2 linked regions of the Homo sapiens genome follow. The protein of the gene in region 1 purifies or fractionates together with the protein of each later gene. This does not show direct contact. Each region holds a gene or a part of one and is shown on either strand. Other genes may lie near its edges. The genes, in order: PGGT1B and PTAR1.

Region 1 (3,834 bases):
GATAGGAGGGTGGGTGATAAGAATTTTTGGTATGAATAGTACAGAAGTAATACTGTCTTCTCAGTGCACTGTATTTGGAGGTGCAGCAAGTTGATTTGCCCTGTGTCTGCTCACTTGGTTAAGGTGGCATATGCCAGAGTTTTCTCTGTAAAGTTAGTGTTTTTCCCTTTGTAATTACCGAATATCTTGTGGTGAGATACCTGGAGACTAAATATTCAGTGAGTCCCTAATCAAATTTTTATCCAATAGTGTTGTTAGTATGCATTGATGATTTTCCAGCTCTAGCATCCTTCCTATAAATATCAGTTAAAATTCTACTGTTTGAAAAAAACTTTCTCTCTGCATTTATTTATTTACTTATACTTACTTATTTATATCTCTATGGACTTCAGTTTCTTATTTTATTCAGTGGGTTGTAATCTGTTACTGTCATTATTTTGATGCTCAGATTGTCCTAGATTAGGCCTGTGGAACCCCTTTTAGTAGGCTCTATGCCCTTTTGACATGTTACCCTCATTCTTTGAAGACCTCCTTGCTTTCTGGCACAAGATATTCCAGGTTTATCTTCTACTTTTCCATCCTCAGCTCTGGAATCAGTCATTTCTTTGAGGAGCCTTGGTTATTCTTGTTGGAGGATAGGGTTTAGAAACTAGAATCTGGGTACTAAGTATGCTCATTGGTATTGCGATGTCATTACTTCTAGGCCTTTTCTCGGGCAGAGATAGGAAATGTATGTGTACATAGGCATCCCCTTACAGACACACAGAATCTATATTTCTGTATCTATTTATATGTCTATATATTAAAATCATGAATCTATCGTGATGCCTCAAATTTCAGTCTTAACACCACAGGGCTCATTTTAACTTTCGTCCTTTCATTTATGACTCCATTTCTGATAGTGACAAGCAGTCCTGGCTCCTATTACCCAGAATACATTGGTTCTTTTTGTTTTGAGTCTGAGGGCATATAGTCAAAGTACTATATTTAAGAAGTACTCCAGTTACTTATTTTATTTCCCCCCTTTAATATGGTTATGTTATCTGTTTGAAGTACCATTAGGTTATTTGTTTCTCTTTGAATTCCATTTTAGGCTTTTCCTTCACTTAGCTCTCTCCTGCCCACAACTTCGTTGACTTTATTTATTTACTTAATATGTGAAAAACTAATTTGGTTCTTAAGGTCAGAACTATACAAAAAGATATATACAGAGAAGTGTGACTCCTTGCCCCTCACCCTCCCTGTATTCCCCCCTCTTCTTAACTCCCATACTTAACATCTTGTTCCCTGTCACCCTGTAGGTAACTATTCTCGTTAGTTTTCAGTTTATCTTTCTTACATTTCTTATTGATGAGAAGATATGGATATTTTTAATGCTTTTCCTTTCTTCATAAGGTAGCATACCATATTCTTTTTTTTTTTGCTGTTTGCTTTTTTCACTTAACAATATAGCTTGGGAGAAAAAAAAAAACACCAATACAATGTGAAAATTACTCCTTATCAGTTCAGAGAGATTTTTCTCTTTTTCTTATAGTTTCCTATTATATTACTCCACTGTGTGGATGTGCAGATGTACCATGGTTTTTTTCAGCTATTCTACATTTAGAGCATATATTTTGCAATTACAAATAATGCTGTAATTAATAACTTCCTGCATATATATTTCTATATTGTTATAGATACATCTTCAGGGTAAATTTCTGGTAGTGGAATTGCCTGATCAAAAGGTAAATGCATATGTAATTTTATTAGAGATTGCCCATTTTCTCTCCAAAAAGGATAGACCAGTTTGTTTTCCTACCAATATAAGAGAGTGCCTGTTTTCACATAGCCTCACCAATAAAAAGCGTTATACTTTTTTTGTTTTTACCTTTTTTTCTGGTAGTCGAAAAGTGATATTTCAGTATATTTTTAATTTTGCTGCCCTCCTCTCATGATTTTTCATTTTATTATTTCTTTTATTATGAGTGTAATTGACCATTTTCTTAACTCGAGGGCCATACAAATCCAGACTGCAGGCCAGAGTTAGCCTTTGGGCCATTGCTGACCCCTAGTTCTAGTCCATTATTTTGCATTTGCTTTTTTTTTTTTTCCTTCTTTTTTTTCTTTTTAGGAATTCCATTTTAGTGTCTGTTCTTATTTTTTTGCCTGACCTTCTTTTCAGCCACTTTCTCTTTGACCTTTTTGACTTATCTCATTTTTATTCTCTTGGATGTTTTCTCCTTTTTTCAGTGTCCCTTGTATTTTCATTTGAGATTATTCTTCCTTAGTCATCCTGTAATTTAAAATTTATTTCTTATTTTGTCTTTTTCTTCTATTTCTTTTCTAACACTATTTCTCTTTTTATTTCTATTGTTTGTTCATCTGTTTTTAGCTTTTAATTTCGTTTTTTATTTCCAAATGGTTGTTTGAGGGTATGTATTTGAGTGTGGAGTGCTACATTACAGTTTTCTTCTGATTCATGCCTATTTCTTGGGAGTAGAGGCAGATTTTCATATACTTAGGTGTTAGCGTTTCATTTGCTGTATTTTCATCTCAGAGTTACTTTGTATGTTAGTGATTTTTATTTTTTCTGATAAGAATTCCTAGTTTAAGATTGTTCTCTTCATTGTAATGCAGTATGCTTTCTTTACTGGGTGGCTTTTTTTGTAGCTGGGGTTGTTCTATGATTTTTCTGATAGGAAAAAGGTTCTCTTTTGTTTCTCAGGTATCTAAATTTTGCTTTTTTGAGCTTTCCTTTATCACCTGATTTTCAAAGGGCTTCTCCCTCCTTTTTTAACTTTCTTCACCAAAATTTACACTCTTTGAGCCCTGCCACTTTGACTTGCACATTCTTTTAAGTGCCTTCCATATAGCCAGTGCTGTGTTTACCAGGCCTCTTTCTGAACAGGCTATCCTCATTTTGCATGACAGTGCCATACTATAATGATAACCACACAAGCTGAAATGATACAAGGTGATTTTAATCATCAATGGGAAAAATTATGATTGTTTTATGACCTTTAAAATTTTTGCCAAAACTTTGAAAACTCTTCCTGTCAGTTATAAATGTATGATGTTTTAAATAGTAAAATCAGTATATAGTATACTATGATGTTTTAAATAGTAAAATCAGTATATGGTATACTATAATTTAAAACATTAGAAATATTGTGAATATTGCCTTCTTCTCATTATATAAATTATAAGATGGAGTATTTTTTCTGTGTCTTGGCAAATGACCACAATCTAAGTTTCTATCAGCTTCCAACGTTGTGTGTTTTGTGTTTTCAGTGTTGTGAAGTCGCTGAGAATTCCTTTTATGTGAAGTTTTTTTGCCCATAGCAGTTCCCTAGAACATCTTCCTCTTTTTTTATCACAAGCTCTTCCCTTGCTTATAGATGTTTCACCTTCACTTAGTTCTTCTGGTGGTATACCTAGAGTCTCAAACAGCAATATTATCAACATTCCCGTAATAGCTGTTTCTTCTATAACTCTAATTTTAAGTTCATACCCAGTGTTAATGCTTTTTATTTCTTTACTGCACTTTCATCTTTGTTGGCCAAGCCCCTCTTTCTGTTATGCCTTTTAATAAAACATCATGTGGGTTTATCACTGAGAGACAAAGAACACAACCACAGTCTGCTATCTGTGTGTGAACTGAATAACATGAGCAATGACCAATTCCTAACAGACTTTGAAAAAGGTGGTATGATTGATCACTGATCGCGATGCACATGTGTTATTTATGTAGTGATTTGCAGAGTGAAGAGCCAGCAACGGAGTTTTGTACTTTTTGCAATTATGGTTAATATGCTGCTGTGGTTACTGAAGTTTGTTGTGTTATTTAGCTAA
Region 2 (3,328 bases), on another chromosome or scaffold:
TTATCATTATAAGGTGATAGGTAATAAATTTGAGGTTTACTTGTCATATAATTTCATATGGCAGATATTGATTCAAGGAGCATTCTATTAGAAAAAGTTGATAAATTATCCTCCCTTACAAATATCATCTTGCATTTGGAGCAGGTATTTTTTTCTTATTAGTTAAAGACTGGGTACAGTTATAGTAGATGCTCAATAAATGCTTAGTCAGTGATTGATCTAACATCAAACTAACAGCTTTCAGAAAGGAGACTGTTGACATCTTTTCACCAAGGAGTATATTTGTAGAGTAATATATGTGTGGAATTTTGAAATTATATCATTTGACATGATTTATGAGGCTTATTTAAGCTGGAGTTAGTAACGTAATAGAAGTATTATTTATACAGAACATAGTTGAAAGATAGGAGATGTGAAAGATTAAGTAGTATTTTCTTGTGCAAGGCATATTAATAAATGTAATTAAATGTCTTAATAAGCAGCTGGCTGAACTCTAGAGAGAACTGCTGTAGTCTTCTGCAATCAGTCTCTGTATTGGTATATCCAGTACTATCGGGTTTAGGTTCTTTTTATTTTTCCTTAAATCTTACTTGTTTCTAGCGTCTTAAGAGTGGTAATGGTAAAATGTGAAGTTACAATAAACTTCTGCTTGTTTTCTCAGAACATCTTTGGCATGAGGAAGAACTTTTTGTGAATGATACAGTAGTCTCAGCATCTGTTAATTTGTGGTTTTCAAAGCATTTTTGACAGAGTTTACCTAATGTAAAAAGATTAAACAGTTTTATAAAACACAAATAAACATTCCTACCTGAACTGTGAGGAACAGAGTGTATAGTACAAATGTAATTAGGCATTGCCTCCTGGCGAGGTTCTTGATGCATGACTTCGATGCTGGCTGCTGACTGAGGTGACCACTGTCAGTATTGTACTTTGGCATATGTTGTTTTTAGGAAAATAATGGAATGCATTCTTAGATTAACTTACTGTTTTTGAGTTGGAAAAAATAAAAGATGAGGTATTATAAGTATGCCAAATATTTATACACTACAAAAGATTAAAAAAGGAGAGGGAGAAAAAAAAAGGCCAGTTATGATTTTAATAGCGTCTAATTTTTTTTTGACTCGAATTTTGTGGACACTAGTCAATTGCATAATTTAACATGGAGGAGCTTTCATTTAAAAGAAGTTCTCAGCTACTATATTCTGCCATTAAAATTAACCATGCCTGTTAATTTTACATTGCTTGAAGATATAAGTAAGCTGCCGTCAATATTGTTTTAAGATTTTCTTATAGTTTATGTTTAAATGGAAAAGTTACATATATAATCTATGGTGCAGGGTCAGGCATTGGCCATTAAAGATAAGTTTGGCTAACTATTTTACTGAAGAGACTAATGGTCTTCCCTCTGTTGTACTGCTATGTTTCTTGATCTGTTTTTCCCCAATGTAACAGTCTACATTGAAGTCCTTTAGCTCTCTCCATATACTAATTGACATTTGTTAAGGATTCAATATTTTGTGAATTCTTTTTACCCTTAAAATGCATATCTTTCAGAGAGATAAGAATGAATTTTGCAATAATTTATATGCAGAGTGTGCTTATGGGTTTCTGGGAGTTCAAGTTAGTACCCCAGAGTGCTTAAAAGTATGATGCTAAATTCTAAGGCTAATGTAATGACTGTAGATTATCTATGTCCACATTGTTCAACAGAAATATAATGTGAACCACAACATAATTTTTAATTTTCTAGTAGCCATATTAAAAAAGAAACAAGCAAAATTAATTTTAATAACAGTTTATGTAACCCAGTATATTAAAAATATCATTTCAACATGTAATCAATATAAAAGATTATTAATGAAACACCTTATCTTCTTTTTCTTCCATACTAAGTCTTAGATTTGAGTGTATTTTGCACTCACAGCACATCTCAATTCTGACTGGCCACATTTTAAGTGCTCAGTAGTCACATATGGCTAAGGGCTACTATACTGGACAGTACAGATTCATAGAGTATAAAATATGACTTTAACTTTGGAGATGGTGAGGTAGGCCTGTAATTATGGTACTTTAAAAATTCAGAATATTTAGAAAAGCATCTAATAGAATTATCCACTTGTTTTCCTTCATCTTCATTTTAATATGTTCTAGAAGTAGGATCAGCCTGTTCCAATTTGCCAAGCATTATTAAGGAGGAATAATTCCATACCATGTAAAATACCATGATATGCTGATTATACTACATTAACAAATTTTTAAGTTGCGTTCACTAAATTCTGTCCTGTTTCTTCAAAATAATATAGCTTAAATTGCATGTTAATTGTATATCTTACCTATTTTGTTTTTATATTATTCTTACAATATAATCATGTATATTAACAAACAGCCCTGGGATTCTAATCTTCCTCTGCAACTGTCTTCCAGGACTTACTGGCACTTATTACACTGTGATAAGTGGCAGAAAAGTAGAATGAAATATTCTTTTTCCATTAGATTTGTTCTTATGTGACCATGTACCAAGCCAGCTATAAAGTATTGTATTTCTGTAGAATATGGAAAATAGTATTTGTCTTACCTTTGCTAAATGTTTGCAATTTCTAAGTAAACCTTTTATCTCCTAAAATGAGTGTTAAGTGTGATTTTGTTTTTACTTTTGGTGCTTTAAACTTGAGTCTAGTCTACCAAGCTTTCCATTTTATTTGCTTTGATGGTGGTAGGGGGGTGGAGGTGTGAACTGTTGTCTAAATGAAACCAATAATTTTATGACCTACATTTGTAGAAAGAATAAAAATGCCACTATGTCTAGAACATAAAAGAAATGTCAAAAACAAATTAGAGATATCGCCACAGTTGTTTTTAAATTGTATTAACAGTGACTAATTGCCTTATAAAAGTTATTATGACTAGATACGCTTTTTCCCATCCATTTCAAATGAAGCTGTAGAGCACATATAATTACTCGGTTATTTTAGTGTTACATCCTATGTTTTCTCAATCCTGAGTCTCACTTCTGTATGTTATAAGCCAGATATAGTGGTCTTACTTACACAATATAATACATAGATAGACTCCAAAAAGTGTTTGATAAAGTGGATACTTTTTTTAACTCAAATTTTAAATATTTCAGAAGTGTGTTATGGGAAAGACCTATCTTACTTTATCCCTTGACTATTTAGGATTACATTTTATATAATGCACTACTATTATGTATATTTTGGGTAGGAAACAGGATATCAAATTTATTTTGCATGATGGCAAAGTACAATTGTTTAAAATTGCAGTACTGACTAGGTGCAGTGGCCCACACCTGTAATCCCAGCACTGTGAG

Evidence for each region.
Region 2: the proteins of PGGT1B (region 1) and PTAR1 fractionate together in Homo sapiens (co-fractionation; one large-scale study listed by BioGRID). This does not show direct contact.

What each region holds. Positions count from the first base shown.
Region 1 is NC_000005.10:115,231,804-115,235,637, reverse strand, and holds part of PGGT1B (geranylgeranyl transferase type-1 subunit beta), read left to right. Parts: intron 1-3,834. UniProt on the Homo sapiens protein: Catalyzes the transfer of a geranyl-geranyl moiety from geranyl-geranyl pyrophosphate to a cysteine at the fourth position from the C-terminus of proteins having the C-terminal sequence Cys-aliphatic-aliphatic-X.
Region 2 is NC_000009.12:69,708,820-69,712,147, reverse strand, and holds the end of PTAR1 (protein prenyltransferase alpha subunit repeat-containing protein 1), read left to right. Parts: 3' UTR 1-2,623; downstream 2,624-3,328.